7 linked regions of the Homo sapiens genome follow. The protein of the gene in region 5 purifies or fractionates together with the protein of the main gene of each other region. This does not show direct contact. Each region holds a gene or a part of one and is shown on either strand. Other genes may lie near its edges. The genes, in order: RAP2B, BCAR1, ACOT1, SIRT3, CNP, DBNL and STAT3.

Region 1 (2,941 bases), on a different chromosome or scaffold from region 5:
AATTTAATTTTATTTTACTTTTTTTTTGAGATGGAGTCTCATTCTATCACCCAGGCTGGAGTGCAGTGGTGCGATCTTGGCTCACTGTAATCTCTGCCACCCAGGTTCAAGCAATTCTGCCTCAGCCTCCTGAGTAGCTGGGATTACAGGTATCTCCCACCGCACCCGGCTAATTTTTGTATTTTTAGTAGAGACGGGGTTTCACCTTCTTGGCCAGGCTGGTCTTGAACTCCTGACTTCGTGATCCACCTGCCTCGGCCTCTCAAACTACTGGGATTACAGGTGTGAGCCACCGTGCCCAGCCTTGTGAGTAAATTTTATAAATCTGTTTTCTTCATGTTTTCCTCTTCCCTTGGACATGAAAATATAAAAGTAAAATCATTTCCTCTTGTAAGTGTTCAATTTTAGCTAATCTCAAAAAGGAAGTTGAAAATGATGCAGAAAAGTAAATAAAATGACAATCTTATTACACAGTTTCACATACAACAGAACAATTATTATTTGAAATTCATGGAATCCATTTTTATTTACAATTTCCACATACCTTTCAAAGGCCCAATGTTCAATAAATTTATCTACTCTATTGTCTGCCAAACAGCCCCACAGTATTATAACTGATGACACATGTAGATGTGCTTTTCCATATACTATTATTGTTTAATATACACTATTTCACAGATTATAGTGAAAAAGAGCATAAAGCTGTTGCGCCTTCACCTGACTTCCTCTTTTAAGTATTAGCGCTCGCAGTACAGCTATTAATAATAGTAGTATGTGCTCAATAAGTGTTGAATAATCAATGAATCAATTTCAGCTGTTTACCAATTTCCACTGCAACCATATTCTTGATAATTAAGGTTGGTCTCAGGCCTTTTGGGGACACCTGTATTCACAAGGCATCAATAATCTTTCTCTTTTCCATTTTTTAAAAAATTTTGCTACCTTTGCAATTTTTCACAATTACCACAAATAAACCAACCACGTTTTCAATCCTCTGACAAACTTAACCTCACATAATTTTGCAAGATAATTCATTTTAAAATGAGTAAGTTTAGTCAACTGGATAAGAAAGAATGCAAATAGCTGTCTCCTCCAATTTATAGAACAGATCAACACTCATAATTTCAATAGCCATAAGGCCCATTTTGCTTTTCCTGCATGTCTATACCACTTAGTCATTTCTGCTTCTCAAAACAAACCATTTCACTAATTAAGGCTTTAGAAATTGTCACTCCTGGCTGGATGCAGTGGCTCAGGCCTGTAATCCCAGCACTTTGAGGGGCTGAGGAGGGAAGATCTCCTGAGCCCAGGAATTTGAGACCAGCCTGGGCAACACGGCAAGACCCTATCTCTACAATTTTTTTTTTAAATAAAATTATCATCTCAGCCGGGTGCAGTGGCTCACGCCTGTAATCCCAACTCTTGGGAGGCTGAGGTGGGTGGAGCACAAGGTCAGAAGTTCAAGACCATCCTGACCAACGTAGTGAAACCCCATCTCTACTAAAAATACAAAAATTAGGCGGGCGTGGTGGTGCACGCCTGTAATCCCAGCTACTCAGGAGGATGAGGCAGGCTAATCGCTTGAACCTGGGAGGCAGAGGTTGCAGTGAGCCGAGATCGCGCCATTGCACTCCAGCCTGGGCGACAGAGCCAGACTCCATTTCAAAAAAAAGGCTGGGTGCGGTGGCTCACACCTGTAATCCCAGCACTTTGGGAAGCCAAGGTGGGCAGATCACAAGGTCAGGAGTTCACGACCAGCCTGGCCAGTATGGTGAAATGCTGTCTCTATGAAAAATACAAAAATTAGCCGGGAGTGGTGGAGGGCGCCCGTAGTCCCAGCTACTGGAAAGGCTGAGGCAGGAGAATTGCTTGAACCCAGGAAGCGGAAGTTGCAGTGAGCCGAGATCGCGCCATTGCACTCCAGCCTGGCCGACAGAGCAAGACTCCGTCTCAAAGAAAAAAAAAATTATCATCTCATTGTTTTTTCCTTCTTTAATGTAAATAGTTTAGTCCTAATGATTATTAACCAGGATTAGAATAAACTACCAGATAATTCTGATTGTCTTATATATGGCAAATAAATTCATAGTATAGGACACTTTTAAAATATATTATTCCAACATAAATATAACCCTAAAATTAAAACAGGTTCACAAAATCAAGTATTAGTCCATATTAACAGTAGTAGAAATAACCGTAAAATGAAAGCCAAGATAAAAATATACTGAAGTCAGTGTTTCATTGTACTATCACCAGCAATAGCCTTTTGAATATGGAGCTCCCTAAAACTGTCATAGATCTCAAACTATCAACCATAAATGTCTGTAACTTTTGTTGAAAATGAACCTTAGAATAGCATACAGGAATGTTCCTTTATCAGATGGGCAAACTAAACTTTAAAAAAGTTTATTTCTGTATAGTTGGAATGGAAGACATAGCTCCAAAGACAATCTTAATAAATCTATCATGGGTAGGGAAGATAAAATCCTACCATTCTTCAATCAACACTTTTCACCTTCTAATAGAATAGTTTCAGATGTAACACTCCATGTTCCATTCATTCAGCAAATAGCTATTAAGCTACTATAGAGAGCTGTAGACTACTGTGCTATGAAAATAACAGTAACAACAACAGGGTTGAACAAAAAAAATTTTAACCAAAAATATTTATTATTCTTGAGGCAAAAGCAAGAAAATAACTGAAGTCCAGGAAGCATTAAAAATGAAAATGGAGATTTGAGTAAGGGCCTTTCTTCCCCACCCAAGCATGATAATATTATTCTCAGCATCTAAATAGTAGCTACTACTCCCTCAGTCTATAAACTGGTACTAAACTTTCTAAATTGTAAAAGAGAAATTTGAAGTAAGCAATCCACTACTTGTAATTAGATCTACTATTGTTTCTTTAGAAGGCCCCCAAATTGTCTTTAAAAACCCAGAT
Region 2 (3,500 bases), on a different chromosome or scaffold from region 5:
CCCATGTCCATGGAGTCCCCCACCCGCCAACGACCTCCGGCCATGCCTCCTGGGTACCAGGCCACCCATGGGCGGGGGTGGGGGTAACTCCCAGCTGACTCGCTGCCCAGCTGGCACCAATGAGGTCTCCACCTCAGCCCTGGGCTGAGTGTCTAGTGCTGACTCCTTCCTACAGGCAGGTGAGCTTGGGAGGCAGGGGCCCTGTGGACTTGGGAAGCGGGCTCAGGGTCTGGAGGCCAGAGGTCTTGTCCCCAGGCCCAGCATCCCATCAGCAAGAGCCCAGGAGGCTCTCAGGGCAGTCCTCCTCTAGCAATCTCAGGGGCAGCGTCCTCCCAGGAGTCACATCCAGATCACCATACGCACCCGCTGGCCCCTAGCATGTTCCATAAGTGGAGAGGGGTTGGCCTGTGGAGGCAGGGGCGGCCAGAAGATGTGCCGGAACCCCATCTAGAGGCTGACACGTAAACCCAGATGGCACAGGGGAGCCTGAGCATGAAGTGGCTGGCCTCTCCCTTGCGGGGGCCCAGCAACTGCCGACCCCATGTGCCAAGCCCCGCCTGCCCACTGGAACGCCTCAACAGGCTGCTCCCTGTGGTTGGTGACACCACCACTCGGGTCGGCTTGGCTGAGGCCAGCGGAGCATCTCCCCTCTGGGTCCATTCACATCCATCTTCCCCGGACAAATGAACACCCCCCAAACACTCACTTCCCACTTTGACCCCAGACCAAACACACAGCCACTCCTGGAATGCCGGTGATTGAGGGTGGCTGGACCCTTCTGTGCCCACAAACCAGGGCCTGGGCTATACCTGTGTGGCTGCACAACTGTGCCAGGACAGCCTTACCTTTGCCGGGGGCTTCGTGCCCTCCCAGCTGCGTGTGTCCATGGACGGGGGGACCTGGTAGATGTCATGCCCCATCCCGGCAGAAGGTGGCACCTGGTAAATATCCTGGGCAGGGCCTCCAGGCCCTGGGGGCACCTGGTACAGGTCTGTGGCCGGGCTGGGAAACGGGTGATGGGGTGTCTGCTTCGAGAAGGTGGATGTCTGCTTGGCTGGGGGAGACTGGAACTGAGGGCTGGGACCCGGGACTTGGTAGAGGCCTTGCTGAGCCTTGCTGGGAGTGGGCACCAGGTAGACGCTGTCTGGCTGGGGCTGGTAGGTGTTGGGGAGCATGGGCGTGTACTGGGAGGCCGGAGGCGCTGGGGCATGGAGGCCAGGCTGAGGCTGGGCCGGGGTGGCGGGAGGGCCGGGGCCAGGCCCTGCTGGCTTCTTATCATACATGCCCACCAAGATCTTGAGGCGGTTCCCAGGCACGATGCCCTGGCGCCCATGCAGCGAGCAGAGCCACCAGCCGTCCAGGCCCTGCGTGTCCTGCTCCAGCACCGTCATGATGTCACCCTTGCGGAAGGAGAGCTCATCCGGGGACTCGGCCACATTGTCATAGAGCGCTTTGGCCAGCACGTTCTGGGGAGAGAGGACACAGGTGTGAGAACAGAAGGATGTGCATGGGGCGTCAGGGGCTCCCCAGCTCCTGCCCTGCTCTGGGGAGGTGCCCAGCTTTGATACTAGGAAAAGAACTCAGTGGAGTTTGGCGAGATCATTGTGCCTTTGCCTCCACTGTCCCCACCTGTTCCCCAGCAGAAAGGCCCAGCTGATCCTGGCCTTTCTTTCAACTGCACCTGTATAGCACCTCAAAATCCTCTTGACCACTGTCACCACCAAAACTCCAGGGATGACCCTCAAGATATCCCTAAAAGCCCCACCCAAGGCCACTCTGCTACCTGGACCAACACAAGGAGAGCGGCAGTAATCACGACAAAGCTGCCAAGTTAAAACAAATAGCAAATGGTTCTCTCTCGAGGTGCACGAAAATAATCTGACAAAAAGAACAGCTTCTTAGGATAAAAAAATGAACAACAATAAGACAGAGCTTCCTTAACAAAGTCTATCTACCCCAAATCCAAAAAGTCAGTAATTAATTTAGAAACTTCAAACACCTTCCCCAAGGCTGGGAAAGAAACAGGAGGCACACCCTCCCTGTCCTGGCCCCGTCGCCCTCAGCAAACCCTTGCAGAGCCGGGTACGTGCTCCATGTGGCCCAGGAGCCAAGCAGTCCGAGAGGGACTTGGAGGAGGCTGTGGGATCAGAGGCATGAGTGCCGTGGCGAGGGCAGGGGCGGAGCCTCGCTGGGACACTAGAGCCCAGGCAGGGAGGCCTCGCAGTTTCCCACCACACACTCATGCATCCTCGCCCCTGCCGCTGCTGCCCCATCGAGGTGCCAGGCGCAGGATGGGCCCAGAGAGACAGAGGATCCCTGGCTGGAGGGTGTGGGCGGTTGCAGCAAAAGGCAGGTGTGAGGGAGGCACGGGGTGAGACAAGGCCAGGGCTGCGGCCCCTCCTAGGGCAGCAGAGGGCTGCATGGGTTCCACAGGGGCCCCAGACTTCACACACAGGGAAGCCGGGTGTGAGAACAGTGCCAGGCTGGCTGGACAGTGACCGGCACTGGGCTCCAGCCACCCCACCAGCCTGGCCTCAGCTCTGGGCTGCCCTGCAAGGTCCCTCCTCAGAGTCTCCTGGCGTCTTAGATGTGCAGCCTGGTCGAGACTCTGACTCGGAAATGGGACCTGGGTTCTGGCCAGCCAGTAGCTGTGTGACCATCCCCACTTGGGCCCAAGTCCCACTTTCTGGACTCCATCTGCAAGGAGTGAAACAAGGAAGAAAGGGCCACGCCCCCTTGGGCAGAAACAGGAAGCAGGAGCCTGTGCCTTGGGGCAGAGGAGTGGGGGTGAGGCCTCTTTCAAGTCCCTAGGGCCCACCCTCCTCCCCTATATGAGCAGGGGCTGGACAGTGCCCCTCTGAGCGCCATCTCCCTGGCCGGCATCAGAGGGCGATGGCATACCAGGCAGCGGCCTGGGTAGGCAGTAGTTGCCCCAGGTCCCAGGATCAGACATTCAGACCCCATGGTTCACTTGCCCTGGGTGGACATCATCAGCAGGGAGCCCATTTCTCCAGAGCAGCTAGGAGCCTCCAGTCCCTAAAAGGGCCAGAGGCTGGAGTGTGGAGAGCCAGGAGGAGCAAGGCCCAAGGGAGGGGCCAGGGGGCAGCTAGGAGAGGGCAGGCCCAGGTGGAGTCATATTGGAGCCAAGGTGAGCACAAGGGCAGAGGCCCTGGATGGCTGCAACACTGTCCACACCATGATTACAACAAAATGAAAAAGGCACTCAAGTGAAAAGCACATCTCAAGAAAATGTCCTGTGAAACGTAAAGACAAGAGAGGGTCAGGAAGACACCAGAGATGTCTGAGACAATGGAGATAGTTTCTCTTCCTGTTTTTCAGGAATGAGTGTTTCTTGCTTTGGGGCTGAAAAACTACACAAAAAGAAAAAAAAAGAAAACGGTGGACTATGTCCCAGGCTCTGAGGCAGGACGGGACAGGCAGTGCGGCAGGTCTAGGGGCCAGAGCCCCACAGAGGAGCGGGAGGGCGGGGGCTGTCCTGC
Region 3 (4,154 bases), on a different chromosome or scaffold from region 5:
TAGAAGGAGTCAACATATTCATCTGCTCTGGGCAACAATTTGTCTTAACTTACAAAGTTAAATATGTTATTCTACTTGTACATGTGCACCAGGAGGCATATTCCTTATAAGAGGAAAGCCATTGCAGATGAGCAGTCTGGATTAATTTAAAAAAAGAGCAAAGTCAACTGGAAACAGTCCAAATGTCCATCAACAATAGAACAGATTAATAAATTGAGGTATATTTCCAGCAGTCAAAGTGATTGAACTACAGCTAGAAGAATCAACATCTATCAAGATATACAAAAGAAAAGAAAAAAATAAAAAAGAATCAACATGGATGAATCTCCAAACCACTGTTGAGTGAAACAGTCAAACACTAGGAGAACACATTCAGTATCATTCCATTTAGATACAGTTCAAAAAATAGGCAAAATAAAATATTGTTTAAGGTACATAATCTAAGTGGTAATACTATGAAGAAAACCAAGAGTGATACACAGAAAGTCCAGGATACTGGAAAGAGAGGAAAGGGCACAGGGGTCTGTGGGACGTTGATGGTTTGCGGGTATCAGCACTGAACTATGTCTTAAAAGTGTTGCCTGTAAGGTGTTTGCATTCTTTTTTTTTTTTTTTTTTTGAGACAGTGTCTCGCTCTTTCGCCCAGGCTGGAGTAGTGGCACAATCTTGGCTCACTGCAACCTCCAACTCCCGGGTTCAAGCGATTCTCCTCCCTCAGCCTCCCGAGTAGCTGGGATTACAGGTGGCCGCCACCACACCCAGCTAATTTTTGTATTTTTAGTACAGATGGGGTTTCACCATGTTGGCCAGGCTGGTCTCGAACTCCTGACCTCAGGTGATCCACCCGTCTCAGCCTCCCAAAGTGCTGGGATTACAGGCGTGAGCCACCAGACCCAGCCTGCATTATTATTCTTTAATTTTGTGTGAAACACAAAACCTTTAATGTAAATGATAAAAATATTCAGTAAGTGGAGTCATTCAGAATGAGTAGCCTTTTGAGTCTGTCTCCATTGAATAAGTGCATTCTGTTGAGTGCACTGGAGAGGAATTTGTGCTCTTCTATGTAGCAGTCTTTCTTTTTGTTTCTTGGTGGTGCACCATTAAATGGATTCATTCACCAGTTAAAGGACATTTGGGTTGTTTCCAGTCTTTGGCTACAATGAATAAAGTCACTATAAACACTTGCCAGAAGTTTCTGGACGAACACAGGTTTTCATTTCTCGTGGGTAGATACCTAGGAGTGGGATTGCTGGGTCACATGTGTGGTAAGTATATGTTTAACTTGGTAAGAAACCATCCAACTGTTTCAGGAATAGCTTAGTTTTGCATTTTGTTTTGTTTCTTCCCAAGAACCTGGGCCCTTTCCTGGCATTGTGGACATGTTCGGAACTGGAGGTGGCCTGCTGGAGTATCGGGCTAGTCTGCTGGCTGGGAAGGGTTTTGCTGTGATGGCTCTGGCTTACTATAACTATGAAGACCTCCCCAAGACCATGGAGACGCTCCATCTGGAGTACTTTGAAGAAGCTGTGAACTACTTGCTCAGTCATCCTGAGGTGAGTTCTTCTCTCAGATTTATGGGCTATGATGTATCAGGTCTCTTCTTAAATGGTCTGGGTTTTCACAGAAGTTAGCTCATTCATGACAGCCATTCCCTACCCCAACACACACTACCTTTTTTAGTCACTTCTTATAGACAGTTTCTTTCTTTCTTCTTCTTCTTCTTTCTTTTTTTGAGATGGAGTCTCACTCTGTTGCCAGGCTGGAGTCCAGTGGTGCGATCTTGGCTCACTGCAACCTCCACCTCCCAAGTTCAAGTGATTCTTGTGCCCCAGCCTCCCAAGTAGCTGGGATTACAGGCACCTGCCAACATGCCTGGATAATTTTTGTATTTTCAGTAGAGACGGGGTTTCACAATATTTGTCAGGCTGGTCTTGAATTCCTGACCTCAAATGATCCACCTGCCTTGGCCTCCCCAGGTGCTGGATTACAGGCATGAGCCACTATGCCTAGCCTAATTTTTGTATTTTTTTTTTTTAGTAGAGATGGGGTTTCGCCATGTTGGCCAGGCTGGTCTCAAACTCCTGACCTCAAGTGATCTGCCCACCTCGGCCTCCCAGAGTGCTGGAATTACAGGCATGAGCCACCACACCTGGCCTCTTATAGACAGTTTCTATTCAATTCTATATTACTATATTTCCTGCTAGTAAAGATATTTGTAGTTGGTATTATGCAATTTTAAATTCCAGTATGTTTTTTCTTTCTTTTTTTTTTTTTTTTTTTAAGACGGAGTCTTGCCGTGTCAACGAGGCTGGAGTGCAGTGGCATGATCTCGGCTTACTGCAACCTCCACCTCCCAGGTTCAAGCGATTCTCCTGCCTCGGCCTCCTGAGTAGCTGGGACTACAGGCGCATGCCACTTCTGCCTGGCTAATTTTTGTATTTTTAGTAGAGACAGGGTTTCACCATATTGGCCAGGCTGGTCTCGAACTCCTGACCTCAAATGATCCACCCGCCTCAGCCTCCCAAACTGTTGGGATTACAGGCGTCAGCCACCACGCCCGGCCATGAGATGACGTACTTGTTGATGACGACTCAGTTTAGTTATGACAGTGGGAATGGGTGGCTCAGGTGGGAGACAGAAAAAGATCATGGGAGATAATGAGATTAAGGAACTGAGAAACCAGAGTAATTGATAGATCTTCCACATGGTTATCACCAAGAGTGGTGATGGACAAATTGTGGAAAGGAAGAGATAGAGGGGAGGTAAATTCCCAAAGCTGCAAATCTGGGTAAATGGTAGAACCCAGATTCAGACTCAGGTTCAACTAACTTCCAGGGTGGGCACAACTCACCATATTCCACTGTTTGTGGAGCCATTCTTCTTCTTTTTCCTTTGTCCCTTTCTCAGGTAAAAGGTCCAGGAGTTGGGCTGCTTGGAATTTCCAAAGGGGGTGAGCTCTGCCTTTCCATGGCCTCTTTCCTGAAGGGCATCACGGCTGCTGTCGTCATCAACGGCTCTGTGGCCAATGTTGGGGGAACCTTACGCTACAAGGGCGAGACCCTGCCCCCTGTGGGCGTCAACAGAAATCGCATCAAGGTGACCAAAGATGGCTATGCAGACATTGTGGATGTCCTGAACAGCCCTTTGGAAGGACCTGACCAGAAGAGCTTCATTCCTGTGGAAAGGGCAGAGAGCACCTTCCTGTTCCTGGTAGGTCAGGATGACCACAACTGGAAGAGTGAGTTCTATGCTAATGAGGCCTGTAAACGCTTGCAGGCCCATGGGAGGAGAAAGCCCCAGATCATCTGTTACCCAGAGACAGGGCACTATATTGAGCCTCCTTACTTCCCCCTGTGTCGGGCTTCCCTGCATGCCTTGGTGGGCAGTCCTATTATCTGGGGAGGGGAGCCCAGGGCTCATGCCATGGCTCAGGTGGATGCTTGGAAACAACTCCAGACTTTCTTCCACAAACACTTGGGTGGCCACGAGGGGACAATCCCATCAAAAGTGTAAATTTTATTTGATCATGTGGCCTCTCTGTTGCTAATCTCTCCTGGAAACATCTGCCACATTTAGTGTGTGTATGTGTATTCATTCTTTCTCATAACTTCTTAAAGTTTCTTCCCCTCATTATTAAAATGAATTTACCAGTAAGAATGAGTTTTTAAGATTTTTATAAACTGTATACTTTATCAGTTTGGGAAGGGAGTAACTGTAGGAAACACAAGAAGTGGAAAAAGTCTCCTCTTCCTATCTCAACACACAACTGATAAGGCTTTAGTTCTGAAAGGAAAAGTGAGTAACATCAATTAACAGTGTCTGGTACGTAAATGGAGTTCAATAATTATTTGCTGAATGAGTATAAGTGAGCCAGGCGTGGTGGCTCACACCTGTAATCCTAGCACTTTGGGAGGCCAAGGTGCGCGGATTACTTGAGGTCAGGAGTTTGAGACCAGCCTGGCCAACATGGTGAAACCCCATCTCTACTAAAAATACAAAAAATTAGCCGGGCGTGGTGGCGCATGCCTGTAGTCCCAGCTACTCAGGAGGCTGACGCAGGAGAATTGCTTGAACCCGGGAGGCAGAGGTTGCAATGAGCTGAGATTGCACTACTGCCCTCCAGCCTGGGTAACACAGCAAGACTATGCCTCAAA
Region 4 (3,500 bases), on a different chromosome or scaffold from region 5:
TTCTCTGGGGTTCCCTTGACCAAGGGGAGGGCTCCATTCAGTTGGTTGCAGGGCTTAGAATTTTATTTTATATTTTATTTTTTTGAGATGGCATCTCGCTCTGTCACCCAGGCTGGAGTGCAGTGGCATGATCTCGGTTCACTACAACTTCTGCCTCCTGGGTTCCAGCAATTCTCCTGCCTCAGCCTCCCGAGTAGCTGGGATTACAGATGGGTGCCACCACAAATGGCTCATCTTTGTATTTTTAGTAGAGACGGGGTTTCACCATGTTGGCCAGGCTGGTCTCAAACTCCTAACTCAGGTGATCCACCCGCCTCAGCTTCCCAAAGTACTGGGATTACAGGCAGGAGCCACCGCGCCCAGCCTAGAATTTTATTTTATTTTTCTTAAGGAAGGCCTACAATTATTATTATTATTTTTTTTTTTTTGAGATGGAGTTTCGCTCTTGTTTCCCAGGCTGGAGTGCAATGGCCTAATCTCAGCTCACCGCAACCTCCGCCTCCCTGGTTCAAGCAATTCGCCTGCCTCAGCCTCCCGAGTATCTGAGATTATAGGCATGCACCATCACGCCCGGCTAATTTTGTATTTTTAGTAGATATGGGGTTTCTCCATGTTGGTCAGGCTGGTCTCAAACTCCTGACCTCAGGCGATCCACCCACCCGGCCTCCCAAAGTACTGGGATTACGGGCGTGAGCCACCATGACCAACTGGCCTACAAATTTTAAGCAGAAGAAATAAAAGAAAATTCATATGGAAAACCACAGTGGAGAAACCGCAAAACTCCAAAGACAAAAGTCTTAAAAAACAGGCAGAGAGGCCAGACACGGTGGCTCATGCCTGTCATCCCAGCACTTTGGGAGGCCGAGGCGGGTGGATCATGAGGTCAGGAGTTCGACACCAGCCTCACCAACATAGTGAAACCCCATCTCTACTAAAAATACAAAAATTAGCTGGGCATGGTGGCGCATGCCTGCAATCCCAGCTACTCAGGAGGATGAGGCAAGAGAATCGCTTGAACCTGAGAGGGGGAGGTTGCAATGAGCTGAGATCATACCACTGCACTCCAGCCTGGGCAACAGAGCAAGACTCTATCTCAAAAAAACAAAAAATCCAAACAACAACAACAAAAATAAAACAGGCAGAGAACAGATAGCAACAGTTTCAGAAATTTATATGAAAAGCCAAAAGATTCAGACCAGCCAACACAGTACTGAAGGAGAAGAACAAAGGTGGGGAATTAACATCAACCTGTTGCCCAAATTATCTATTTTATTCTCTTATTTATTTATTTATTTTGTTTTGAGATGGAGTCTCACTCTGTCACCCAGGCTGGAGTGCAGTGGTGCGATCTCAGCTCACAGCAACCTCCCCTCCCAGGTTCAAGCAATTCTTCTGCCTCAGCCTCCTGAGTAGCTGGGATTACAGGTGCACCACCACACCTGGCTAATTTTTGTATTTTTAGTAGAGATGGGATTTCACCATTTTGGCAGGCTGCTCTCAAGCTTCCCACCTCAGGTGACCCGCCTGTCTAGGCCTCCCAAAGTGCTGGAATTACAGGCGTGAGCCACTGTGCCCAGTCCCAAATAATCTCTTTTAAATGCAAATCCCTTCACATCATTTTCCTGCCTAAAAATCCTCCAATGCCTCCCATGATCGTCAGGATACAGTTCAAACCCTAACAGAGCAAGCAGGCCTCCCACACTCCAGGTCTCTGCTGCCAGAAACAGACTCTTACATCCAGACGGCCTCATCTCAAAGGTGCTTCCCAGCCTACTCTGTTCCTACAGCTGAGTCAGTGTAGTGTCCAGTACATATTTATAGTAAAATTCGTATGGCACCCAGTTGTAACTGTTGGATGACTCCACCTTATTTTAATTTCTATTCACATCCACAGAACCCAGCAAAGGGCCTGGCACTGAGGAGACTAAACTATTTGTTGAATAAATTGGTCATTCAATGAATGAGTTGACCAAAACAATAATACGTATATATCAAGTTTCTACTATGTGCTGGACTCACACTTCCTAATTTCAAAACTTACTACAAAGCTACAGTAACCAAAACATTATAGTGCAGGCACAAGGATATACAGATAACAATGGAATAGAATTGAGACTCTAGAAATAACCCATACACCTATGGCCAACTGATTTTCAACAACAATGCCAAGACCACAGTTTTTTTAAACAAATGGTGCTGGAACAATTACATATCCACATAAAAGAAAATGAAGCTGGATCCCTACCTTACAGCGCACACAAAAATTAACTCAAAATGGATCAAAGAACTAAATGTAAAAGCTTTAAACTATAAAACTCTTATAAGAAAACAGGAGTAAAACAATACCATTTCTCAGATATGATTCCAAAAGAGTGAGAAAATAAATAGACAAACTAGATTTCATCAAAATCAAAACTTCTATGCATCAAAAGACATCAACAAAGTAAAAAAGACAACCTACAGAATGACAGAAAATATTTGCAAATCATGTCTCTGATAAGGATCTAGCTTCCAGAATATATAAAGGACTCTCTTAACAATAAAAAAGACAACACAATTAAACAATGCGCAAAGGACTTCAATCTCCAAAGATATACAAATGGCCAAAAAGCACATGGAAAGATGTTTGATATCATGAATCATTAGGAAAATGCCAATCAGTGCTACAGTGGGTTACCACCTCCCACCCACTGGGATAGCTGTAATTAAAAAATGGAAAGTAAGTGTTGGGATGTGGAAAAGATGAAACCCTTGCCCACTGTTGGTGGAATGTAAAATGGTCCAGCTTCTGCAGATAACAGTATATTCGTTCCTCAAAAAGTTAAAACGGGCCGGGCGCAGTGGCTCTCGCCTGTAATCCCACACTTTGGGAGAAAGAGGCAGGCGGATCACGAGGTCAAGAGATCGAGACATCCTGGCCAACATGGTGAAACTACTCTACTAAATACAAAAATTAGCCGGGCGTGGTGGTGTGTGCCTGTAGTCCCAGCTACTCAGGAAGCTGAGGCAGGAGAATCGCTTGAACCCAGGAGGCGGATGGTACAGTGAGCCGAGATTGCGCCACTGCACTCCAGCCTGGTGATAAGAGCTAGACTCCGTCTCAAAACAAACAAACAAAAAAGTTAAACATGGGCAGGGCATGGTGGCTCACGCCTGTAATCTTAGCACTTTGGGAGGCCGAGGCGGGTGAACCACCTGAGGTCAGGAATGCAAGAGCAGCCTGGCCAACATGGTGAAACCCCATCTCTACTAGAAATACAAAAAACATTAGCTGGGCATGGTGGCAGGCACCTGTAATCCCAGCTTCTCAGGAGGCTGAGGCAGGAGAATCGCTTGAACCCGGGAGGCAGAGGTTGTATTGAGCCGAAATCGCGCCATTGCACTCCAGCCTGGGTGACAGTGTAAGACTGTGTCTCAAAAAATAAATAAATAAATATAGCTAAACGTGGAGTTACCCAGCAATACTTGTAGGTATCATACTCAAAAGAATAAAAAACAAG
Region 5 (3,500 bases):
ACCAACCCCTCTTTTCTCTTTCAGCATCTGGTCCAGGGAATTTCTTTTTTCAATTTGGCTAATGAAGGGCAACCACCCAGAACCCAGAAAATGCAGATTCACTCAGTTTAATCTTGAATGTGGAAACAGTTCACCTCCTCCCTTCATCACGTCTCCGTGTGCTTAGAGCAGTTTCGTTTTCTCAGTTGGATGCCCTGTGTCTCTGTGAGTGGGGTGGAGCAAAGGGAACCAATGCCGAAGACCGAGGGCAGGGGAGGGAGGCGGGGGTGGACAGGGAGGCAGCTTGTGAATTTTTGTTTTACTGTTTAACTTTATTAAAAAAGAAAAAAAAAAGAGAATAAAATGTTTTGACCCTTCCTGGCCCTTTGCTCTGGCATCTGCATTGTCTCCAGTCTGTGAGCCAGAGCTGAGCCCGACCTGGACTTGGGGTGCAGCAAGCTGCTGCATGCGGGCTGTGGGCACCCAGCCTAGTGGCAGGTGGGGCACTCTGCCTCTCCCAGACCTGTCCAGCATGTGAGTGCTAGGCAGGCCCCGGCTGTGCCTCTGGGCCCAGCCTAACATCAGTCACAGAGAAGCGAGTTCAGAAAGCATGCTCACTTTACGGTGGGGCCCCAGAAATCACTAGAAGCTGTGTGTGTCCAAAGCTCAGGTGGGTACTAAAAGCTGTGTGCGTCCAAAGCTCAGGTGGGTACTGACCTAGACAGGGCAGTTTACTTACAAAGACTCTCACAGTTCCTGTTGCAGTGTGGGTTCGAGGGAGATGGTAGACAGAGATAAAACCCTGCCTCCTGACCCCCAGACCCATTTGAGGTGGGACAGGTGGCTCCAGAGCTCTGGTCTGGCCACTATTTTTAGCAAAAGCCCCTGGCCTTCTCTGCTCCCTTTCTGCATGCAGGAGACACACTGCTCACGGATGCAGCGGCATGCACCATGCTGTCCTGTCAAGCGTGGTGTTCAAGGTGAGTAGCCTTCCCAGGAGCTCCAGGCACAGACTTGAAGCTCTAGCTGAAGTTCAGAGATGGCCAGGGACAGGCCTTGACCTAGAAAGGTAACTTAGGATTTCTCTTCATCTGAGCTCCTGCCCCTTTCTTTCAAGTCTTCCCCGGCTGGTGCCTTAGCCATGGTGGAATGATGCCTGAGTCAGGTCTTGGAAGTTTCCCATGTGGCTGACTAGGCCTCTGATGGCCTGGAAGGGACTCAAATGTTAGATCTTCCCTGGTGCTTGAAGTTTCAGTGACCTGCAGGTGGCCTTCCCTAGAGAACTGGGAGAAACCCATACCAGGAGCTTCCGGTCTTACTGAACTCTTTCTGATCCAGTGGGCTGGGGACACCTGTGGGCTTGGTGCCCTGGTTAATGGGGGATGAGAGGCTTTTGTGCTCCACATCCCTCGTACCCAGCCAACCCCCACCTTCTGTATGAGTCTGAGGCCAGCCTCTGCTTTCTGCCTCCTCATGAAAGCCAACACTGTTCAGCTGCCCAACCTCACCACAGCTGTGCCCGGCCAGCAGAGGGGAGACAGGACCGATGGCCCCAAGCTGTGGGACAAAGCCAGTCCTAATACACCCAGCCCTAGGGAAGACTGAGCTGGGCACAGAAGGGTAAGAGAGACTGCACACAGCTAGGATTAACATGATTTATTTCATTATCAGTCTTACAGGTTGCTGAGGTTGGGCAAAGCCAGGATAGTAACTTAAATCCAAAGCACTTTTGTTGAGTGACAACCCGATTAGCAAGGCCCTGTTACTGAACAGAGGGCAGTGGAGGGCACCCCAGGAACCACAGCACACAGACTAGTGTTAGAAACCCCTTCCCAGAAGCAACCGGTGGGACTTGGCCCTTACCAGCCAGGGGTCTACTCCATTGGCTCTTGGTGCCCACCAGCCCCTGTTAGAGGAGGCCCAGAGGCCTCCAGAGGCACCATGGAGGCAAGATGGGCTGGGTAGAGAGCAGGACTGGAGCTTCCTCACCAGGGTTCTGCCTCTGGCCCCGATCTCCCCATCCACACAGCGGAGCCAGGCCACTGGAAAGGACAGCCAGTCCAGCCCCTTCCTGGAGTGAGGCCCCCAGCCAGCGGGGATGTGGCGGCTGCTTAACTGTTCTGCTTTCTTCCCTAGTTATCAAACTGTTACCTAGTTATGGTGTGAAGGGGAGGGGGCAGGGACTTAGGACCAAAGGTGGGAGGTAAGCTCCTTTTTCTACCCTGGTAAATAGCCCCAGCCTTCTTGGGGCTACACTGATTAAGAAATGGGATCACTCAGGAGGATTGCTTGAGCCCAGGAGTTCGAGGCTGCAGTGAGCCATGATCGCACCACTGCACTCCAGCTTGGGAAATAGCAGGACCCTGTCTCTAAAAACAAAGAAAAAAGACAAGGAGATGGAATCAAAGCCCAGAGGTCCTCCCCTTCTCAGAGCCACCACTAGTTCTCTGTGACCATGGAAAACTACCCCCAGCCCCACTGCCTTTTGCCTCCGGTCAGTGGGTTTTGCGGGGCTCTGAGGTGTCTCCCCACTCACCCAGCTCTGGGCAGAGCAGCTGGGCTGGGCTGGGGCTGAGCTAACCAGAACCTGGAAGTAGGGCTCGGGGTTCTGGCTGTGGCCCCATCCCTGGCTTGGCCCAGCCTCGTCAGCTTTGGTCCAGGTTCCTGAATGGTGCCTCCCTGCCCACCTTGTGTTGGGAGCGTGAGCATTAGAGGGGAAGAGGGCGGACAGGAAGGGAGGGTCAGTTATTTTACAAGTTTTTAAAAAGTTACAGGTAGGTTAACTTTGAGTAAAAAAAAAAAAAAAAAAAATGTCACAAAACAAGGATCAAACAGAGGGCACGTTTCCCTCTCCCCTTCCCTTCTAGGGGCATAAGTGGTGGTGAGAACACTCATATGATGGTGCAGGACTGCAAGGCGCCCCCCTTCCGGCTACCTTGCGTGGGCACAGGTTTGCCTTTCCCGTAGTACCCCGTGAAGATGGCCCTGACCTCCATGTTCTTGGCCAGGGTCAGCATCCAGCGCCCATTGCCCAAGGAATAGAGCTTGCCCCGGCTTAGCTCGCCCACCTCCTCGCCTCGGCTGCCCCCCTTCTCCTGCCGCAGAATCTCTAAGAGGTCAAGGCCCGTCTGCACGGCCTCTACGTCAGCTGCACAGCCGAGGGTGATGTGGGCGCGGCTCCCCCGCGGCAGGTTGTCAGTGGGTGACAGCTTGTCCACATCACTCGGCCACAACTGCAGTTGCTGCTCGCTTAACTCCACCCGGGCCCCAGTCGTCTTGGGTGTCACAAAGAGGGCAGAGATGGTCAGCGTGAAGGCCTTGGAGTAAGATTTCTTTAACACCTGGGGAGAGTGAGAAAGAGGGGCCCAAGCTAGAGATGGCAGGCTCTTGAGGAACAGCTGACCCAGGGAGGGTCCCTCCTGGAGGAGAGAAGGGGAAGTCTAACAGAAGTGAGCACAGCTGAGCAGGGGTCGGTATAGGCCCAGCATCCACTAACAACTGCGGCACGCACCTTCCATAGG
Region 6 (3,500 bases), on a different chromosome or scaffold from region 5:
TACTTTCTGAAGGCTGGTTATAAATAGCTGCTTTGAAGTCTGTATCTGATCATTCCAATAGTTGAATCATCTCAGGATGGGCATGTATTGATCATCTTCTTTTCTCCCATGTTAAGATTTTCCTGGTTTTCATACACTGGGTTATTTTGGATAACCTGGATATTTTAAATATTATGTTGAGACTCTGGACCTTGTTTAAATCCTAAGCAGAATGTTGACTGTTTAAAGTGTTTGCACTACTAGTCATATTAGTCCTGTATCTACACCGGTCAGTCTGGGACCTGCAATGTGCATCTAGGGTCAGCCCTGTGCGCAGCTTGGCAGCAAGCCAATGACTTCACATATCACTTTATCGGATCACTCACTTCATCTCTCCCTTCTCTGTACTCTCCCTGAAACACAACAGCTCCCTGCAACATCCCTACCAAGACCTCCAGCCACAAATCTGGGGCTCTTTCCCTACCTACCCTGCTGCATACTCCCTGAAACTGCATCCAGGGCCCAGCGCAGGGGGGCAGAAAGGAGCTGCAGAAGGTGGTTGCCCCATGCTTTTGGGGCCATGGCTCCTCTAGACAGAGGGTAGCGTTACCCTCTCAGGTTTCAAGTGCGTACCCAGCTCACACTACCGTCACTGTGCCACCACTGCCACCTCCATGTTACTGCCCAGGAGCTGGGGTAGAGAAGAAAAGAAAAATTGGAGGGATTCCCCCAACTCACTGACTTCGAGGGGCTTCACATCCCACTCCTCTGATTCTTCCTGGAGCTCTTTCTGTTGGTGCACTTGAGGTTTCAAGCCGCCTGTGTGTCCAGGCTAGGCAATACTTGTTACCTCACCACTTCTCTGCGGAACTTTGAATCTGATCTCCTTTTCTTATCTGTCTACTGACAGCTGCTCCTGCATCTGTCCAGGATTGGTGGCTGTCAGTGGGAGAGACATGGGAAGATGCTCCCTCCACCTTCCTGGGACCACCTTGTTGACTCAGCAGCCTTCCTCGCCGCCCACCATGCTATGCCTTCCTGGATGGAGGCCCTGAGGGTGGCTTTTGGTTTTCCTACCCCTGTACCCCTCCAAGAAAGCTCTGGCACACTGCAGAGGCCAGCAACTACTTGTCAAATGAATCAAAGGAAAGTCAAGCCGGAGCCAAGGGTCAGAAGCAGGGGCTTGCTTCCCCGAAGTCCAGCCCTTCTTTGGGCTCCCCTTTCCTTTTTGACACCTCCTGCTTGGTTGGCAGTGAGGTCTCCCAGGTCTGGGGGATCCTTGCCACTGCTTCTGCACCCAGCCCTGGCTAAGCGGCCTTGTTCTCATCAAAGCTGCCGAGACCTGCAGGGTACTCAGCTTCTACTTCCACTCCTACACAGCTGCAAGTGACTTGAAAATATGACCATGCTTCAAAGTCTCCAGTGATTCCCACTGTGTTGGGACACAAAGCCCACCTCTCTGCCATGTGCCCCTGATGGTCGCTGCCCCAGCTTGTTTGCTTTCTGTAGGGCTTGGGTCTTTGCCAACCCCTCTACCTGAATTGCTCTCCCTGTAGGACTCATCATAGCTGAGGCCTTTGCACTCCGCTCTTTCCACTCACATGTCACCTCAGGGCTGTCCCCGGCCTCTCCTTTCCCATCTCTCCCAGTACATTATGGTCCTTCCTTCCTAGCATCTGGTGCTATCTACGGTAGGCATGTTTAGCTGCTGGTACGATCCCTCCTCCACTGAAATATGGGCTTCATGTCTGGCCCCTGTGGGACTGCCAGAGCCTGGTCCTCAGTCATGTTTAGTTGGGCTAGTGAATCAACTCTTGGTCAAAGGGACAAAAGCAGATGAGGAGATGTGGCTTCAATCAGGATCAGTGTGGAACAGTGAGACCTGCGCATGGCACTGCTAGGAGGGATGGGTTCCACCTGCCAGCCTTGGGGGTCCTGGCAGCCGACAGGACTTTGCCCACTGGGACTTGTCTGCCAACCTTTGGGTACAGAGCCTTAGCTTCACAGGCCCCAAGCCAGGAGCCCCTCCCCAGGTAGGCCAGCAGGGATGGAGGGAGGCCTGTCGAGGGTTTCTTGCACACTCAGATCCAAGTCTCAGAGTGGTGGTCCCTCTGCTGGCCTCTCACCTACCCGCTCCTGTTATCAGAAGTGTCGCAGGTGACAGTGTGGTCACTGGGGTGGGAGGAAATGGGAGGCCCTGGATGGGGCCCATGCCCAAGGGTCTGGCCATGGCCCCTTCATTAGGGCCCCAATTGTGACTTTATTGCTCATAGTCTCTTCCCTGCCTTGGTGGCTCTCATCCCCCAAACCTGAATGCAGAAGTCTTGGTCCTAGACTCAACTCCGTGCCACCCTTCAGCCTACGTTGTGGGTTCCTGCTAAGCTGAGCATTTACCTAACAATCAAGACTTCTGACAGTCCTCAGTCCTGCCCCCAAACCCCCTTGGATTTCTCTTTTTCAAGGTGGTTTCGGCTAGGAGAGTGAGCGTGGCTTGGGTGAGGGCAGATAGGGTGGGAGCATGGGGCATGTATGGATGAGACCTTGACAAAGGGACCCCGGAGGAAAGACAGGGGCCCTTTCCCCCTTTGTCCTGGAAACCCGGCTCAGCCCCAGCCCTTGCCCATTCTGCTGCTGCTGCCTGGTACCTTCCACAAGGCCAGACTCCTCTCCACAAAGCTGTGGTCTGCACCAGCTCCTCTGGCTCTCCTCCTCTGCCTGCTGAGGGCCGCCTCCTAGCCTGGCTGCCAATCACAGGAGAAAGGGGTTGGGATTTTGTTTGTGCCTCTGTCTGAGCAGAGAATGGCTGATAGGCCACTGAGCGTTGCCCTGGAGAGCCCCTCTGTCCCTGCTATCCCCATCTCCCCTGGCCCAGACTTCTGCCCTTCACGCCCATCCCTGACCAGCAGCCCCACTCAGTCTGGGCTCTGGGTGCCAGCTGGTTATAGACATGCCACCTGAACCCAGGCCAGGAGCTGGTGGATGCGTGGGGCTATTTTAAGCACAGCCTCTTGGCCTGCACACTCCCCTGGCCCCCAGCCCCCAGCAGCTCAGCTACTGGTCACCTGCCACCGCCTGGAATGCTGATTGGCAGTTGGCTGGGGTGGGTGGGGGCTGGGAAGACACTATTATAAAGCTGGGAGTGTTGGGAAGCAGCCGTCCCCGTCCAGAGTCCTCTGTGGTCCCTGCTGCCACCATGGCCACTCACCGCCTCGTGATGGTCCGGCACGGCGAGAGCACATGGAACCAGGAGAACCGTTTCTGTGGCTGGTTCGATGCAGAGCTGAGTGAAAAGGGGACCGAGGAGGCCAAGCGGGGAGCCAAGGCCATCAAGGATGCCAAGATGGAGTTTGACATCTGCTACACGTCAGTGCTGAAGCGGGCCATCCGCACCCTCTGGGCCATCCTGGACGGCACGGACCAGATGTGGCTGCCTGTGGTGCGCACTTGGCGCCTCAATGAGCGGCATTACGGGGGCCTCACAGGCCTCAACAAGGCAGAAACGGCCGCCAAGCACGGGGAGG
Region 7 (2,619 bases), 340 kb from region 5:
CCTGTGGGCGCCCGCGTAGCTGAGGTTGGGGCGCCTTTCCCTGCATTATCACCGCTGGCTGCCGGGGGCCCTGCAGCCACCACCGGGTGTCTGCGTGTTGTCCCCGCTGGGTGAACTGAAGGGAAAGTGATAAAGGAGCCAACTGTGGAAGGGGAGGCCTTGGTGCGGTGGGAGTATCTACCCCCCACCCCGCTTAGGTGGCTTATCTGACCCCAGACAGGACGAGGCCGCTCTGGGGGGTAGGAGGGGGCCGGGGAGGGAGGCCTCCACTCTGACACCTTTCTGCCGTTGGACTATTGACCTCCTGCTCCTCCAGGCACCCCTTACCTCCGGGCTGGTGGCTAACATAAGGGGGTTGGCGGGGGGGATTAAGGCAACCACCTCCTCTCAAGACCCTTTCCGGCCCTTATCCCAGGCCCCACCTGTGTGTGAGGCCCCCTCAGAACTTATGCAGGGGAAAAGGAAGCCTCCACCAGCCAAACAGAGCTGCCATGCTATCAGACGGTTCCTATATAACGTTTATTTCTGGAAGTTAAAGTAGATACAGCAATATACCAAAAAAAAAAAAAAAAAAAAAAGACAAAAAACCTCACAATAATATAAATTTTTACACTATGAAGTACACATTGGAATTTGAATGCAGTGGCCAGGACAGCAGCTTATAAACCACCTTATAGGTAGGTAAGCAACCCACGGGATTCCCTCGGCTGGGCTGGGGATGGGGAGGGGGCAGTGGACAGGAAGCGGGCAGGGCCTGAGGACCCTGTTCTTTAATGGGCCACAACAGGGCTCAGCTCCTCTCAGAACTTTTGCTACAATCAGAGTTAAGACCAGATACATGCTACCTAAGGCCATGAACTTGACAATATCTGCTCCAGAGAAGCCCTGAACCCTCGCCCTAGGTCCCTATGATTTAAACCCAATGGTAAGCCCAAGTCTCACCTTTCTAAATATTCTGTTTATCAGTTAAGCTTATTATGTACTGAAGAGTGTTGCTGGAGAAGTAAGAGCTCTGCATGACACATCAACTGTCTCCAGGCAGGAGGACTGGGGCGAACCCTGTTCATCTTAGAGAAGGTCGTCTCCCCCTTAATTCAGAGACCAGCTAATTTGATTTAACAAACAGAATTCCACAGAAACTCTGATCAGCTGAGGCAAGGTGGTTTTGAGTTGCCAAATCCGGCCATGCCTCTGAGTCAGAGGCAGCCCATCCAGCACGTGCTAGGTGTTCCCATACGCACAGGAGAGGCGAGCTAGCCAGCCAAGGCGGGCAGGCGGGGAGGCCCTCTAGCTGTTCTGCCTCACCTGTGGGGCCCCAGCAGGGAGGAGTCACCAGCCTCAGAGGGAGGCCAGGTATACACCCTCATACGAGGGCAGACTCAAGTTTATCAGTAAGCCTTTGCCCTGCATGAACTGAATGAAGACGCCATTACAAGTGCCACTGGATATCACCAAGAAACTGGCTAAGAACCATATTCCCTGAGCTCAACCAGACACGTCGCTGGGGCCCCATAGTGTGCATCATGTCCAACCTGTAACTCTCTCCCCCTCTTCTTCCATGAGGTCCTGAGACCAGGATTCCTAAAACAAACAGGATGAGGGACCTTTAGACACGCAAGGAGACATGCCTCTAGCAGGATCAGGGGGACTGGGGTCGGGAGGGTGGGGCAGGAAGGAAGCCAGAATCAGAAGTATCCCAGCCCTGATAAGGCACCCACAGAAACAACCTAGCCTCTGAAACAGCAGATCAAGTCCAGGGAGAAAGGGAGTCAAGGTTGTAAGCACCCTCTGCCCAGCCTTACTCACTAAAAGGCCAATACATTACAAAGGAAAATAAGTCTATTTATAAAAAAAAGTCTAAAATGCTTAGATTCTCCTTAAACCTTCCTATTTCAACACCAAAGGCCAGGTTGCAGCTTCAGATGTCTTAAGGGTTTGACCTGAAGCCCGTTTCAGGGATTATATAAATTACCAGCCTGAAGGAAGCTGAATGCTTAAAGCACCAAGGAGGCTGTTAACTGAAGTTTCTTTTTTTTTTTTTTTTTTTTGAGACAGAGTCTCAGACTGTCGCCCAGGATGGAGTGCAGTGTGCAGTGGTGCAATTTTGGCTCACTGCAACCTCCGCCTCTCAGGTTCAAGCGATTCTCCTGCCTCAGCCTCCCGAGTAGCTGGGACTACAGGCGCCCACCACCACACCCAGCTAATTTTTTGTACTTTTAGTAGAGACGGGGTTTCACCGTGTTAGCCAGGATGGTCTTGATCTCCTGACCTTATGATCCGCCTCGGCCTCCCAAAGTGCTGGGATTACAGGCGTGAGCCACCATGCCCGGCTGCTTAAGTTTCTTAAATACAGAAAGGCTATGCTGATACAGTGTTTTTTGCCCTTTAATTGTTATTATTTCTTAATTTAAAAAGAAACCTAGGGCTTAGATAGTCCTATCTTCTATTTGGATGTCAGCAAGGTTAAAAAGTGCAATGCCAGGAGTATGTAGCTATAGGTGGCCTGTGGCATTTGCTTACAGAAACAGGCAGAAGGATGCCGCAGGCACCAGGAGGCACTTGTCTAAGAACAACAACAACAATAACAAAAAGCTGCTGAGAAAGGAGGGCAGGGGAACA

Evidence for each region.
Region 1: the proteins of CNP (region 5) and RAP2B fractionate together in Homo sapiens (co-fractionation; one large-scale study listed by BioGRID). This does not show direct contact.
Region 2: the proteins of CNP (region 5) and BCAR1 purify together in Homo sapiens (co-immunoprecipitation; one large-scale study listed by IntAct). This does not show direct contact.
Region 3: the proteins of CNP (region 5) and ACOT1 purify together in Homo sapiens (affinity purification with mass spectrometry; one large-scale study listed by BioGRID and IntAct). This does not show direct contact.
Region 4: the proteins of CNP (region 5) and SIRT3 purify together in Homo sapiens (affinity purification with mass spectrometry; 3 studies listed by BioGRID and IntAct, with this or other methods). This does not show direct contact.
Region 6: the proteins of CNP (region 5) and DBNL purify together in Homo sapiens (affinity purification with mass spectrometry; one large-scale study listed by BioGRID and IntAct). This does not show direct contact.
Region 7: the proteins of CNP (region 5) and STAT3 purify together in Homo sapiens (co-immunoprecipitation; one large-scale study listed by IntAct). This does not show direct contact.

What each region holds. Positions count from the first base shown.
Region 1 is NC_000003.12:153,168,187-153,171,127, reverse strand, and holds the end of RAP2B (ras-related protein Rap-2b), read right to left. Parts: 3' UTR 501-2,941; downstream 1-500. UniProt on the Homo sapiens protein: Small GTP-binding protein which cycles between a GDP-bound inactive and a GTP-bound active form. Involved in EGFR and CHRM3 signaling pathways through stimulation of PLCE1.
Region 2 is NC_000016.10:75,241,625-75,245,124, forward strand, and holds part of BCAR1 (breast cancer anti-estrogen resistance protein 1), read right to left. Parts: intron 1,467-3,500; coding exon 846-1,466; intron 1-845. UniProt on the Homo sapiens protein: Docking protein which plays a central coordinating role for tyrosine kinase-based signaling related to cell adhesion. Implicated in induction of cell migration and cell branching. Involved in the BCAR3-mediated inhibition of TGFB signaling.
Region 3 is NC_000014.9:73,540,143-73,544,296, forward strand, and holds the end of ACOT1 (acyl-coenzyme A thioesterase 1), read left to right. Parts: intron 1-1,144; exon of another isoform or gene 1,145-1,159; coding exon of another isoform or gene 1,160-1,265; intron 1,266-1,350; coding exon 1,351-1,553; intron 1,554-2,907; coding exon 2,908-3,513; 3' UTR 3,514-3,654; downstream 3,655-4,154. UniProt on the Homo sapiens protein: Catalyzes the hydrolysis of acyl-CoAs into free fatty acids and coenzyme A (CoASH), regulating their respective intracellular levels. More active towards saturated and unsaturated long chain fatty acyl-CoAs (C12-C20).
Region 4 is NC_000011.10:226,343-229,842, forward strand, and holds part of SIRT3 (NAD-dependent protein deacetylase sirtuin-3, mitochondrial), read right to left. Parts: intron 1-3,500.
Region 5 is NC_000017.11:41,973,295-41,976,794, reverse strand, and holds part of CNP (2',3'-cyclic-nucleotide 3'-phosphodiesterase), read right to left. Parts: intron 3,321-3,500; coding exon 2,871-3,320; 3' UTR 63-2,870; coding exon of another isoform or gene 25-62; 3' UTR 1-24. Other genes in the region: DNAJC7 (dnaJ homolog subfamily C member 7), read left to right, coding at 25-62. UniProt on the Homo sapiens protein: Catalyzes the formation of 2'-nucleotide products from 2',3'-cyclic substrates. May participate in RNA metabolism in the myelinating cell, CNP is the third most abundant protein in central nervous system myelin.
Region 6 is NC_000007.14:44,065,202-44,068,701, reverse strand, and holds part of DBNL (drebrin-like protein), read right to left. Parts: coding exon of another isoform or gene 3,173-3,500; 3' UTR 1-3,172. Other genes in the region: PGAM2 (phosphoglycerate mutase 2), read left to right, coding at 3,173-3,500. UniProt on the Homo sapiens protein: Adapter protein that binds F-actin and DNM1, and thereby plays a role in receptor-mediated endocytosis.
Region 7 is NC_000017.11:42,312,824-42,315,442, forward strand, and holds the end of STAT3 (signal transducer and activator of transcription 3), read right to left. Parts: 3' UTR 501-2,619; downstream 1-500. UniProt on the Homo sapiens protein: Signal transducer and transcription activator that mediates cellular responses to interleukins, KITLG/SCF, LEP and other growth factors. Once activated, recruits coactivators, such as NCOA1 or MED1, to the promoter region of the target gene.